Homo sapiens: one gene and its partners. The protein of the gene in region 2 purifies or fractionates together with the protein of the main gene of each other region. This does not show direct contact. Each region holds a gene or a part of one and is shown on either strand. Other genes may lie near its edges.

What was found. Proteins that work in one complex are often made in the same cells at the same time.
Region 1: the proteins of PRKD1 (region 2) and SMPDL3B purify together in Homo sapiens (affinity purification with mass spectrometry; one large-scale study listed by BioGRID and IntAct). This does not show direct contact.
Region 3: the proteins of PRKD1 (region 2) and TMEM43 purify together in Homo sapiens (affinity purification with mass spectrometry; one large-scale study listed by BioGRID and IntAct). This does not show direct contact.
Region 4: the proteins of PRKD1 (region 2) and ITPR3 purify together in Homo sapiens (affinity purification with mass spectrometry; one large-scale study listed by BioGRID and IntAct). This does not show direct contact.

What each region holds. Positions count from the first base shown.
Region 1 is NC_000001.11:27,952,000-27,955,499, reverse strand, and holds part of SMPDL3B (acid sphingomyelinase-like phosphodiesterase 3b isoform 1 precursor), read right to left. Parts: intron 2,286-3,500; coding exon 2,142-2,285; intron 1,147-2,141; coding exon 974-1,146; intron 1-973. UniProt on the Homo sapiens protein: Lipid-modulating phosphodiesterase. Active on the surface of macrophages and dendritic cells and strongly influences macrophage lipid composition and membrane fluidity. Acts as a negative regulator of Toll-like receptor signaling.
Region 2 is NC_000014.9:29,599,348-29,602,847, forward strand, and holds part of PRKD1 (serine/threonine-protein kinase D1), read right to left. Parts: intron 471-3,500; coding exon 309-470; intron 1-308.
Region 3 is NC_000003.12:14,128,052-14,131,551, forward strand, and holds part of TMEM43 (transmembrane protein 43), read left to right. Parts: intron 1-1,360; coding exon 1,361-1,510; intron 1,511-2,770; coding exon 2,771-2,905; intron 2,906-3,500. UniProt on the Homo sapiens protein: May have an important role in maintaining nuclear envelope structure by organizing protein complexes at the inner nuclear membrane. Required for retaining emerin at the inner nuclear membrane.
Region 4 is NC_000006.12:33,687,322-33,690,821, forward strand, and holds part of ITPR3 (inositol 1,4,5-trisphosphate-gated calcium channel ITPR3), read left to right. Parts: coding exon 1-6; intron 7-156; coding exon 157-243; intron 244-735; coding exon 736-846; intron 847-917; coding exon 918-1,110; intron 1,111-1,334; coding exon 1,335-1,460; intron 1,461-1,916; coding exon 1,917-2,089; intron 2,090-2,712; coding exon 2,713-2,877; intron 2,878-3,500.

The DNA.
Region 1 (3,500 bases), on a different chromosome or scaffold from region 2:
CCTTCCCACCTCTGTGCCTGCCACCTGGAGTACCCTTCTCCTTTTCACTTCTGTAAATCCTCCCCACACTTCAAAGAGCACCTCCCCCATGAAGCTTTCCTAATCCTTCAAAGACTACTCTTCTCTTGGAGAGCTTGAACACTGCAACGAAACCATTCTTGCGTGGTTGTGTGATATGCTACACGGTAATGTGCATTCGTTTCTTACATTCCTTGAGTCACTCATCTGACAACACCTGGGCACTTGGCCACCATGGCAGGAGTTAGAACAGGGGACAGAGTTAAATGTATGAGTTTTGGAGTCAGACTGCAGCTTAGACACCAGCTGTGTATCACCTCTCTGAGCTGCTGTTTTCTCATCTGGAATAGCACATAGCTGGTGGGGTTTTGAGAATGATGGACTCGCTACTGAGCCGGGGTTTCCATAGTTCTGCTACCTGAGATCATCCGCATAATGTCCTAAACAACGTGCCCAATGTTGGCATAGTGCATGCTCATGGGCACCAGCTGTGAGATCCTCTTGGGATGGGCTGGTCAGTGCAAGGACTTGGGCAAATGAGACACTGAGCCAGTCCTTGAGGAGCTGTCAGGCCAGCAGGCTAGCTGGACACACTCAAGGGCAGGGCATCCCCTGGAGATCTGGCACACAGTACTGGCTGCAGCTGTGCATGTGGTGGGAGTGGAAAGAGCACTGGACTTGGAGTCTGGTCTTCTAGTCTGGGCTTCGTCACTTATTATGTGACTTGGGACCGTCACCACTCTTTATGAGCCTCAGGGTCCTCATCTGCAGTGGGCTCCAGATCCCAGCACACAGGGCTGTGGTGAGGATGGAGGAAGCCCTCTGCTGGTGCCGGGCTGATAAAGGACCCTCTGGGATATGGGCATCTTTGGGTGGGTGGGTGAGTTTGTGCCAAGCGGGAGACTTGTGCAGGAAATAACCCCAGATGAGAAAAGAAAGAAGCAGGGCCTCTTACCATGTCCCCAGCTTTGGATGCATCGGTCAGCACATCTTCCAGCCACTGGAACTGCTGGCCAGGGTCCGCCATGTCTGCTGTCAGCGCATTGCTGGTATAGTACAGATTGGTGTTGAGGACCACAATTCGCCCAGCCCCGCTGGGACCCGGCAGCTTCTCACAGTAGAAGGCACCTGTCACAGCCAGGGACAATATGAAGGAGGCCCCCACCTCTGGCCAGACAGGCTTCCGCCCCTTCCACCTCAATGTCCCACTTTCTTTTTCCGTTGCATCTTCCCCTCCCATCTTTCCCATGGGTGGGACATCAATCTGGAAGATCAGAGGCTCTGGAGCCAGGCGGCCTGGATTCAATTCCTGGCTCTGGAACTCATTCGCTGTGCAACTTGGGAAAGTAACTTCACCTCTCTATACTTCGGTTTCCTTATCTGCATAGTGAGACTAACAGTGATGTGTGTTTGCCCATCCAGATCCACTGTCGACCCTTCACTGCTCAGCTGTCTTTTCCAAGAGCTGATCTATGTGGACTAAATCAACAGGCTTCTGTGGCACAGGCTTCTGGTCGGCTTTAACCACTGGGGAGTCCCAACAGCAGGAGACCGAGGAAAGGGAAGAGTAGGGTCAAAGTCACCTTGGGCTGGCTGTGTTTCTGAACCAGTCATTCTCAACCAGGTGCTTCTGGCCCAAGAGAACACTGGGCAATGTCTGAGACATTTTTGGTTGTCACAGCTGGGGGTGTTCCTGAGGGTATCACTCTAGTGAGTGTTTGCAACATTCTGCAACACACGTGGCAGTTGTCTGCGACAGAGTTATCCAGCCCATGGTGTCAGTGGTGGCAAGGTTCAAACCTGCTGGAAATGAAACCACTCCTTCCAAGGGTTGTTGTGAAGTGTCTAGGACCAGGCTGAGAGGGCAGTGCCTCGCACACAGTAAAGGCTCAATAAATATGAACTTAGGAGCATCATCAGTGTCGTGGGGTTTAGAGGAAGGGCTTTGGAGTTAATTCTGGAGTCTGCTCCCAAGACTGCCTTTTCTAAGCTGTATGACCCTGGCTTCCTTATCTGTAAATTGGGGATAAAATCAGTACTTATTCTAAGAGGTTGTTGTGAAGACGAAGATCAGACCCTGGCATACAGTAAGTGCTCTTGATAGGAGCAGGTGGTGTTGGTACCTTTTTTGAAGAGAGCGATGGACTCATTACTAAGCCAGGGTTTCCATAGTTCTGCTATCTGATTGTAGATGTTGTTACTTCCAGCTGGGAACTGGTTTTTGGGGTGAAAATCATGATTTCCCAAAGCAGCATAGACTTTAGTATCTAGGAAGAAAGGGTGAAATATCAAAATATATATGCAAAAGCACTCGGGGGAGTTAATCATTTTCTGTTGGCCACTGGCCATCAGAGCTCAAGGGGAAGAGCGATAGCACAGATGAGGAAAAGACACAGATAGGAAACCCACATTTGATAGAATCTGACTGAACTTTGCTTAGACTTTGGAGGGAAGAGCAGTGGGTTCTTTCATCACAGTCCCTAAACCCATTCCCAGCAGAAAGTTTCCTAGTTAGAAGGAAAGCAGCAGATGATGAGAAGGGGAAAACTAGGTCTAAATGAGTCCGATCGTCATCAGCCACTTGGTAATTTAGTGTTCCCAATTCCTGTTGATTCCAGATCATCTTACTGTTAGGGAAAGGGTCTGCGTCACTCTGGGAGGCCTTAGGAGTTTCACTCATCCATGCAGTCAGCAAGTATCTTATTGAGCACCAACTATGAGCCAATGCATAGAACTGGAAACCAGGCTTCCAGCCCCAGAGGTCCTGCAGTTCAATAGGGTTGACAGGTATTGAGTAGAGGTGTAAGGGATGTCACAGAAAGGGAATGGCCACTTGCTATGGGAGTAATAACAGAGGGTAGGAGTGGGTTTGGGGAGGCCTCCCTGAGGAAGGGGCCTGTGAATGAGGCCTGGAGGTGTAGGGGAACCCATTAGACTCATTTCCTCCACATGAACAGCCTCATTTCTGTTTTTATTTTATGCTCAGTGTCTGGCACCTAATCGGTGCTCAATAAATATTTGACAATCAACAAAAATAACTCTTGGACTCAGAACAGGGCTGGGCCCTTATATGAGCTTAGTCTATCACAGGGAGTGACCTGGAACAAATGAGGGAGGCTGGAGCCTCCCATTCCAGTTGGGAAATATCTCTAACACACCCTTTGCCCTGTACAGCCGACAAGACCTGGAAATGCTGAGAACTCTGCCAAAGTAGGAGGTTGTCAAAACGCATCACTGTAACTGCCTAGAAAAACCTCACCTCTCTAAAGTAAATGCCAGCAGCCATTAAGAATCCATTTAAGAAAAAAAAAAAATCCCTATGAGAAGGGAGGGACTCACTCCTGTGTTTTCACTGCTTCTGTGTGCCCAGCTCCTTGCAAACATAAGCTCCATGAGGGTGCGACCTGGTGTCTTGTTCATTGCCATGTCTTCTACTCCTGGAATGGTGTCTCACCCATAGTGGATGCTCAATAACTATTTGT
Region 2 (3,500 bases):
ACCTATATCTAACAGGGACACCCATTCTTAAATATTCTCAAAGAACCAAAACTAAACCAATGTACATTTTAAAATTTCATGAAAAGTTTGAATACATGGACCTGCAAACATGTTACTAATTTGGTACACTGTGGACTCTGATTAATATAGATATAAATCACATAATACAATAAAGCCACTACAACCTTTTCTAGTGTAGTTTAGACTGGAGGTAGGGACTAAACAACAAGGCTAGAAAGCTGTAGTTAAACAGTGATAACATTTGATATTAAATATTGTATTTTTTCCGTCTCTAATTGATTTCTTACCTGAGTAATTAAAAACTTCGTTATGTGCTCTGGCAACCTGCCCTTTTCACTTGACAAGATCATTTCCAGCATGTCTCCATGGAGTTTTTCCATAACAACAAACACTCTTTCAGGCGTCTCAAACATACACTCCAAATTTACAACACCAGGGTGATGAAGGTTCTATTAAAGATAAATAAAGCACTTGAAGAAAATGAGTTTTTTGATACTGTTTGGCAAGCTCGCTGATTATACAAAACTGTTCAAGCTTAGAGCTATAGAGAAACCCACACTTAAGATTTTTAACACCTCTACATTCCACATGTGCTGCCTTATATTTTTGAAATTCTAATGTCTCCAAAAAATACATCTTTACTTTCTATGCGTAGTGAAATTATTTCTATGTGAAAAAAATCCAAGTTCTAGCACAGTGAATTGCTAATTAGGTTTTAATTAGAATACCATATTGAGAAATCTATAATTTCTTAGGATCATCCCCAATATTAAACATATTGTCCTAACTAAGCATACTAGGCTATTTATATACAATTGGTAGAAATCTAATGTAGTAAAGATGAAATTCATACATGTAGTGCATCGGGCCATGCACTGATTAAGTACCTTAGTCAAAACCTTTTAGAAATGCTTTGCTACTGGTACTGGAGGCTGCAGTTTTTGACAGAAACTCTTATACTAAGTGAAGATCATAAAAATAGCAACAAAAAAAAAGTGAGCCTGTGCTTTGTCTACAATACCATCCTACCTGCTTGGTTTTCAAGCACGCAATAAATATAGCTAATCCTTGAGAAACACAAATTTGAACTGTGTGGGTCCACTTACATGTGGATATTTTTCGATAAGTACAGTTGGCCCTTGGTATCTGTGGGTTCTGCATCCACAACCAAGTGAGTATTGAAAATACCGTGTTCACCGGATCCAAAAACCTGAGGATGAGGAGGACCAACTTTTCCTAGAGGGAAGTTCTGCAGAGCCAAATGTGGGATGTAAGTATGCGTGGATTTTGATATGTGGTGCGGTGGTTCTGGAACAAATCCCATGCGGATACCAAGGGACTGCTGTCTTTCCACAATAAAGTAATGACTAGTAATGGTAAGCAGCATTTTGCTTGACACATTAATTGCCACATGTCAAGTAAAATTACGCTTAGCATTAGACGATCTCTTGTAATAATGCTTAAATCTGAACGTTCTTCTGGGTCATCAACAAATGCCTTTGATCATTTGACCTTTACCTTTTTTCTCTGCACAACAACAAATCCTAACATTAAAAAAAAATTATATATTCCACTTATATCCCAATGAGCAAGAGAAGAAAAATCATCATGAACAAAAACCACCTAAACAAAAAAAGCAGGAACTAACTTAAATGTGCTAACAGCTGAAGAGAGAAAAAAATTAAATGCTTCTTTATTTTAGAAAAAAAAATCTCAGTGATAAAATTGTACGTAAAATGAAATTTAAAACCTCAAATGGCTCACTGCTCAGAAACCTCACAGATGGATGCTGGGTGGTGAGCAGCAGAAGGGGTTGTGGGTGAGTCTACATTGTTGTAGTTGTCCTCTCACTACCCATTTGCAAGGAAAGCCTGGCATCAACTGGATATAGAACCAGGAGCTCTGATGATGATAACTCATTTCTTAGAGAGTCCTTTTTCTACTTTGCCTGTTTTGATCTCTGCCTCAGGCATCTGATGGGTCTCTTTGATTCTGATGCCTTGGGTCAAATCATACAGCATAATGGAGTCATGGAATTGCAAGTTTATTATGAATGTGATCTGAGCAGACGCCTACACATCTACCCAATAGCCTTTAACCTCTAAAGGGCTAGAGTCATTGTTCTTCAAACCGTTGCACTGTTAACTGGTCAAGTCTGGCAACTTCGAATAGACCTCACCTCCCACGTTGCTCTCTCCTGGTCAGAGCTGAAGCACATGGAGATAGTTGGGGTTCACAAAGCTCATATTATCAACCCTCTTACTTTACTTTTCCTGATTACTTGCAAATAAGAGCAGATAGCCAGATGGCTTTGAGTATTATGGGAGGGCCAGAGGCTAAGGAGGCGACTAATATGACGACATACACTTGTTTGATAGGCACTATGGAACATGTGATAGTATTGTTCATACTTGAACTTGTGTCCCAGGCTGTCTCATTTCCTTTTCCTTACATGCCTTTCCCTGTTAGAGAAGCCAGACTGACTGCACAGACCACTGGCCTCTGAAGTGTCAAAGGTCTCAGCTGTTCTCTTTTAATCAATAATCACAGCACGAGCTTTAAGGATTACATGAGTTCGGCTAGAGTTCTGATTCTCCTAGGACAAGTCCACTATGATATGTGCAAAGTACACGTTCCTCTTTGAGCATCTTCATTGATTCTTTTATTTTTCTATTTAATATAACTGTAAGCACTTAAGCAGTGTTCTGGGGAGTCTGGCTTCCTTAAATGGCTAAGCTTTGCAGTACGGGTGGGAAGCAGAAGCAATGAATCAGAAAGGAGCAGAGCAACAGAAGTAGACAGGAAGGGTAGGTGTCCTCTGTGTGTAGGCAGACGAAAAACTAGTAGGAACAAGAGATAAGCGTTAAGGGAGAGTGACCTCGGGGGCCCAGGGAGGGCAGGGGTCACGGGAGTAGTATTGGAGCTGCACAGCCTGCTGCTTCTGCTGATCTTAGATTCTGAAAGTTGGAGAAGAGGGGAGAGACGCAATGACTGGGGAGTCCTCCTACCTAAATTATCTGAATGATATGAATCCTTATGTGCCTCTACCTGTATTCCTCTTTTTTTTTTTTTTTTTGTTTTGACGGAGTTTCACTCTTATTGCCCAGGTTGGAGTGCAATGGCAAATCTCGGCTCACCACAACCTCTGCCTCCCAGGTCCAAGCGATTCTCCTGCCTCAGCCTCCCGGGTAGCTGGGATTACAGGCATGCACCACCATGCCTGGCTAATTTTGTATGTTTTGTAGAGATGGGGTTTCTCCATGTTGGTCAGGATGGTGTCTAACTCCTGACTTGAAGTGATCCGCCCACCTTGGCCTCCCAAAGTGCTGGGATTACAGGCATGAGCCACTGCACCTGGCCAGTACATGAGTTCTTAGAGGTACTAAAGTCCTTCACTCAATTTATTCCTTTTTCCTACTCCACAACATGACCTGAGGTGCCCCTGTACAGAGGGTAGAACTTTAATACATGTTTATTTC
Region 3 (3,500 bases), on a different chromosome or scaffold from region 2:
CCAATAACTGTGTTCTTTGGTTCTCACCACAACCCTATGCACAGAGGAAATGGAAGGCACAAAGTGGTGAAGTTGCTTGCCCAAGACCCCGTAGCTGGTATGTGGCAGAGCATAAATGCAAACCCAGTTCTTCTGGCTCCAGAATCCTGCCCTAGACGATGACACTTTTGATCAGCAGTGGATGCACCCCAAATCATGCCTCTGTTATTGACCAAAGCCTGATCCACTCACCCTTGAGTTTGAGGCCCACTGTGAACCTGCCCAGAAATGCCTACCTCCAAGCCCTTTCTTCCTCCACTGCTCCCACCCAGCCAAAGCAGACAGGCAGCTGCTCCCCCAGAACCACTTCCTACTTCCTCATCACTGCTGATACGGTTCTCCCTTTAGGGATGCTCTTCCCCTAAGATCTGCCTCTAAGATTCCACTCAAGGGAGCCTCCTTGATACCCCAGGTGGAAGGGGTCACTCCTTGAGCACCAAGTCCACCCCCATCACAGGACCCTCTGTGTGACCTTCTAGTATTGTTTATGGTTGTGACCTCACTGCCCTAAGACTGTCTACTTCTGACCCCACAAGGGCTAGCACTGCCCTCAGAAAGCTCAGCCACTGTTTGCTGAATTTAATTAAAAATACATCTCTAATAACCTCTTTGTAAAATAGCTTGGCAGTTTCATAAAAAGTTAAACGTACATCTTCTTCACGAGCCAGCAGTTGTACTCCTAGGTATATTCCTACGGGAAATGAAAGCACATGTCTGCATAAAGGTTCATGTATGAATATTCACAGCAGCATTATTCATAACAGCCAAAACCTGGAAGCTGTCAAGATACCCATCCACTGACGAATGATTCAGCACACTGTGGTATAGTCATAAATGGAATACTACTCAGCCATGAAAAGGAACAAATTCCTGATAAACACCACAACATGAATGAATTGCAAAAGCAGTGCTCTGAGTCCAAGAAGCTGGGCAGAAAGGAGTTGGTGCCCTGATTCCATTTTTCTCAAGTTGTAGAAGAAACAAACTAATCTACGGTAGGAGAAATTCAAATTCAGATTCTCCCCATCCCCACCAGTTACCTCTGGTTGGTGGAGAGGGGGAGAATTGGCAGGAAAGGGGCACAAAGAAACTTTTTGGGGTGATGGAAATATTTTGTACCTTGCTTTAGATGTTGGTCAGATGGAATATACGTTTGTGGAAACCTGCCAAACTGTACATTGAATATCTGTGTGTTTTTACCACATACAGTTAAAACTAAAAAAAAAAAAAAAAAAAAAAAAAAATTGAGTATAAATAAATAGCAAATTTAATTTATTTTTAAAAACTAGTTTTCATTCTGTTACTGTTTCTTTTTCTTCAGTATTCCAGTACCAGTACCCGGAGAGAACATGTCAAAGTTAAAACCAGCTCCCAGCCAGGCTTCCTGGAACGGCTGAGCGAGACCTCGGGTGGGATGTTTGTGGGGCTCATGGCCTTCCTGCTCTCCTTCTACCTAATTTTCACCAATGAGGTAAAATGTCTGGGGTCTTCCTGTGCAGAGTGAGAGTCCCCACCATGTCAGAGAGCAAAGGCGATGAACCCGGAGGCTGGATTTGGTAATCAAGGGCCTAGATTTTAAAAAGAGAAAGGAGGATACTGAGTTAATCACAGTTCTTTCCATTGTGATCCATCCCACAGCTGATGTGAGCAGGAAGGGGAGTAGATCAGTTCACACACCTGAATATCCAGGGGTTAGCACCTGCCTCAGGCGTAGTTGGATCCAGGTGTTCATGCTGGGTCACCAGGAATCTCCATTTCTTCATCTTTTGCCTGTTTTTCTCTATTATGGTGTTTTTCTTGGGCAGGCACTTCATCTGTGATGGCAAATGTGGCCCCAGCAACTGGCCTACATCCAACCACTTAGCCCAGGGAAGAGAAAAACCATCTGTTTCTCTTCCTTTCTTTCTTTTCCTTTCTTTCCCCTCCCTCCCTCCCTCCCTTCCTTTGTTCCTTTCTTCCTTCCTTCCTTTGTCTCTCTCTTTCTCTCTTTCTTGTTTGTTTGTTTCTTTCTTTCTCTCCCTCTCTCTTTCTTTTTCTCCTTTTTTTTAATAGGGCCTCATGATGCAACAGTATATTTCTAAATCAATTTAGCAGCAGTTACAGGGCCATCTCTCAGTGTCCTGGCTTGGCTCTCCGTCCTCTGAATCAGTCTCCGTGTCCAGGGCGCACTCACATGTTCTGACTGGCAAGGTCTGGGTCCCATAATCTGACCAGGGTTCAGATAGACTCAGGTAAACCACATGGGCTGAGTAGGAGAGAGGAGAGCCAGGCATGGAGGCTCAAGCCTGTAACCCCAGCACTTTGGGAGGCCAAGGAGGCAGGATCGCTTGAGGTCAGAAGTTCGAAAGCAGCCTGGGCAACATAGCAAGACCCCATTTCTACAAAAAACTTAAACATAAAAATAAAATTAAAAAAAAGAAGGCAGAGAAAAATGGGGAGAAAGGGACAGGCAGGCAGAAACATCAGCTGTTCCCACCACTGGGGCAGTGCTAAGATTGGTGGGGGCTAGTGGGAACCAATGGGGCAGTAGGAAGAAGTCTCCCTGGGAAAGCAGGAATCTGGGTTCCAGTCCTTACTCTCCACTTGCTAGACCTCAGTTTTCCAACTGTACGGTGGGGAGATGGGTCTCAGCGCTCCCGGAGGCCCCATCCTACCCTAATACTTTGCAACAAGCACAGTCATGCTGAGCCACCCCTGAGCTGTTGAAATCCCCACTCCCCTTTGCTCCCAGGGCCGCGCATTGAAGACGGCAACCTCATTGGCTGAGGGGCTCTCGCTTGTGGTGTCTCCCGACAGCATCCACAGTGTGGCTCCGGAGAATGAAGGAAGGCTGGTGCACATCATTGGCGCCTTACGGACATCCAAGGTAGGTTTGGCAGGGGATGCTGACCTGCCAGTGGCTCGGGGCTCATCCTGGATGTTGTCTGGCTGAGGATTTGAAAGCATGGGCCTTGGAGATGGTCACACATGGGAGTGATTCCCGACTTTACCACTCAGCAGCTGTGTGGACTTGTCTATCCTGAGTCTCAGTGTCTTCGTGTATAAAATGGGGACGGTAATGGTTACAAGCTTGTGGCCAGCCTTGAGGATTTGGTGAGATTAGGTAACTAACGCCTTGGTACAGTGGCTGGCACTCAGGGAGGTGCTCTCATGACTCTGATGACCATGTGTGTCCAGTGCAAGGCCACAAAACTACCCTGGGCACCAGAGCTTTCCTGTTATTTGAACACCCTGTACGCTGTTGGCACCATGCCATTGGGCCATGCAGCCCAGGCCTGTACTGTGAGGGTCACAGTCACAGGCACTGTGTGTAAAGAACCTGGGACAGGGAGTGTCCTCGATTCTCCCCTGCAAAGCAGTGTAGGGCTCTCCACCCTTGTCCCCTTCTCTATTTCTTCCTCTTCCAGTCCAGCTTCCCCTGAGCCAGGCTTTCTGGGCTGACGTGAATGTTATCCTTTATT
Region 4 (3,500 bases), on a different chromosome or scaffold from region 2:
CTGCAGGTACCAGTTCCACCCGTGGCAACGGCCATCACCCCCCTGGCCACCATACCCCGCCCCAGCTGCCATCATCCCCCAGTCGCCATTGTCGCCCCCCAGCCACCATGTCCCCCAGCCACCACACCCTGGTGACTGTGCTGCCATTTCCCTCAGCTCTCCAGGCACAATAAACAGCTGCAGCACCTGCTGAAGCCGGTGAAGCGCATTCAAGAGGAGGAGGCCGAGGGTATCTCTTCCATGGTGGGTGCTGGCCCCGAGACTGGGGTGGGGGTGGGGCCTGGAACCCAGGGAGGACACTTGACCCAAGGGCGTGGCCTGGAACAGAGTGAGGCCCTAGAATATGAGCCAGGCTAGAATTTGGGGGTACAGCTCAGGGGGCTGATTGGGACTGGCAGCCGTGGGTGAAACCCAGACAGAAATGGAAGCAAGGCTCAGGTGGGTCTAGGGTGGGTCTGGAAGCTTCAAGCAGGACCCGGGCTACACTTGGGCAGGACTGAGGAGGCCCCCGCTATCCTCTGGGATTCTCTGGTCATGGCTCTCCCACTCCCCTCCCTTTGGCACCAGGTTCTCAAGGCTCAGTCCTAGTTGGGCTGGGCTTGGCCTGCTCTGGCTTGGCGGGGACACTCGCTGAAGTGTAGTTCAGAGCTAGGCGAAGGCCTGGGAGGGTGGGGGCTGAGTGCCAGCCTGGATGTGGAGGCTGGGGCCTGACCTCCGCGCCCTCCCCACCTCCAGCTCAGCCTCAACAACAAGCAGCTGTCACAGATGCTCAAGTCCTCAGCGCCAGCACAGGAGGAGGAGGAAGACCCCCTGGCCTACTATGAGAACCACACGTCCCAGATCGAGGTGGGCCTGTGGGCAGCAGGGGCGGGCGTGGGAGCCTGCGCCGGGCGTGACCATGTGCTGTGTGTGCTCAGATTGTGCGGCAGGACCGCAGCATGGAGCAGATCGTGTTCCCAGTGCCCGGCATCTGCCAGTTCCTGACGGAGGAAACCAAGCACCGGCTCTTCACCACTACTGAGCAGGACGAGCAGGGCAGCAAAGTGAGCGACTTCTTCGACCAGTCCTCCTTCCTGCACAACGAGATGGAGTGGCAGCGCAAGCTCCGCAGTGAGGACCCACGGGCGGGAGGGTGGGGCGGTCTGGAGCTGTTCACTGATGCCCTGTTATAACGGCCTCCTTTGCCTGCCTGTGGGTGCCCTGCGCCCAACCCCGCCTCACCCCAAGGAAGGGCTCTTCCATGTGTGGCTTCCTCCTGAGCGGGGCCCCACATGCAAGGGGCAGGGGGTGCTCACCAGGGCCCTCCAGCAGCTCACCGTTGCCCTCCTCTTCAGGCATGCCGCTGATCTACTGGTTCTCCCGCCGCATGACCCTGTGGGGCAGCATCTCCTTCAACCTGGCCGTGTTTATCAACATCATCATTGCCTTCTTCTACCCTTACATGGAGGGCGCGTCCACAGGTGAGAACACAGGGCTGGCCGGCAGGTTCCCCGGGCCCTGCCATGCTTCCTCCCTGGGTTGGGGCAGAGCCTTGAGGCCAGCTGGCCTCTGAGGGCACCAGATGCAGAGTGTGCAGAAGCACCCCCTGCGCCATCCTGTGGGCTCTCGCCCCATCATGGAGACACAGGTGCGGTCAAAGGGGATGGTCAGGGTCTTTGACCTCATGGGAGATGGCGCATGCAGGCACGTGCACACGCATAGATGTGTCAGCCAGAAACAAAACCTGGTAGCCGCAGCCGGACAGGGCCTCCCGCTTAGGCCTGAGAGGCAGGTGTAATGGAGGAGGCTAAAACCAGGCACCAGGAACTTAACCGGGAAGGCGGCCAGGAGAAGGTGGCTTTTCGGCACCTGTTGGACCTGCTCTGGGGCCGTGGTGGGCTTGAGGGAGCCCTGCTCACCCTGCCCCTGGCCCCCAGGCGTGCTGGACTCCCCTCTCATCTCATTGCTCTTCTGGATCCTCATCTGCTTCTCCATCGCGGCCCTGTTCACCAAGCGCTACAGCATCCGCCCCCTCATCGTGGCGCTCATCCTGCGCTCCATCTACTATCTGGGCATCGGGCCCACACTCAACATCCTGGGTGCCCTCAATGTGAGTGCCAGAGGGAGCCCCCATTCCCAAACAAGCTCATGCTCACTGTGCATTCAGACGGCAAGCTGGCCTGCTGCTTCCAGGAGCCACTGCTCTGTCCCATCCCCTCCTCTCTGTTGGGCTCCCAAGTTCCTTATAGACCGGTGGCAGGGACTGTTCTGTACCTTCTTCCTTTCCCTCAACACCTGAGGGCAGCTGGCACTCAGAGACAGAAATTCAAGAGTCCCTTTGGAGCAACAGGGTCAGGGTGGCTGTGCACACTGTGCGGGCTGTGCACTGCCCAGAGGCACTGCTACGCGGCAGACGTGAAGATTCATACATAATGACAATCTCCTGACAGATGGAAATAAAGTGCTTTGAGCGAGGAATACCTTTCCCTGATAGAGCCAGTCAGTGGTCTTCTCTGTCCCCATCCTCCGTTGCCTGTACCTCACTGTCTTCCTGGAACTGAGGACCCAAGGGGCTGCCTCTGTATTCTGAGTCCCAGGCGCCTAGATGCGTTTCTGGAAGCAATTTCATTAATGCCATGCCTCCCAGGCTCTGAGCTGGGCACTGGGGGACATGCGTGCAGATTCAGCATAGGTGGTAGGGTGCTGACTCTCATGCCTTGCACTCGCCCCCAGCTGACCAACAAGATCGTGTTTGTGGTGAGCTTCGTGGGCAACCGTGGCACCTTCATCCGGGGCTATAAGGCCATGGTCATGGACATGGAATTCCTCTACCACGTGGGCTACATCCTGACCAGTGTCCTGGGCCTCTTTGCTCATGAGCTGTTCTACAGCATCCTGGTGAGGCCTTCTGGGTGGGCTGGGGCTGGATGGGGGCATGGGGTGGTTGGGGCTTCCCATGAGTTGTTGGCAGTTCCCCGGCACCAGTCTGTCTGTCCAGTCCTTTTGCTGCTGGGCTGGGAGCAGTGAAATTACAGAGTCTTCATCTGCCTGACCCAAGCCTGGCCCTCAAGGCCCTGATGGCCACTCCTGGTGGCCATCTGACCCCTTTCTCCTGTACAGTGGTGGTTCAAGCCTGGACTCTGGAGCTGGACCAGGGCTTTGCATCTCAGCTGGGCTACTACTAGCTGTGTAACTGGGCAAGTTTCTTAACTGCCCCATGCCTCAGTTTCCTCACCTGTAAAATGGGGATAACAACAGCCCCTGCATTCTAAAATAATTGTGAGATGAAATGAGCTAATGCATGGAAAGCACTTACACTGTTTCCTGGCATGCAGCAAGTACATTTTAAGAGTTGGCTGGTATTCAGCCACCCGTTTCACCCCTCGTGCCTTCCCCTGGGCCACTCCCTTTCTGTGACCTTAGAATTCCAGGTTTCTCGAGAAGCTCCCCTGACAGGCCCACCCAGCTTGGATACGACTAAGTGCAGACCTCCCTGGAGGAGCCTTGGGAAACTGTCTGGA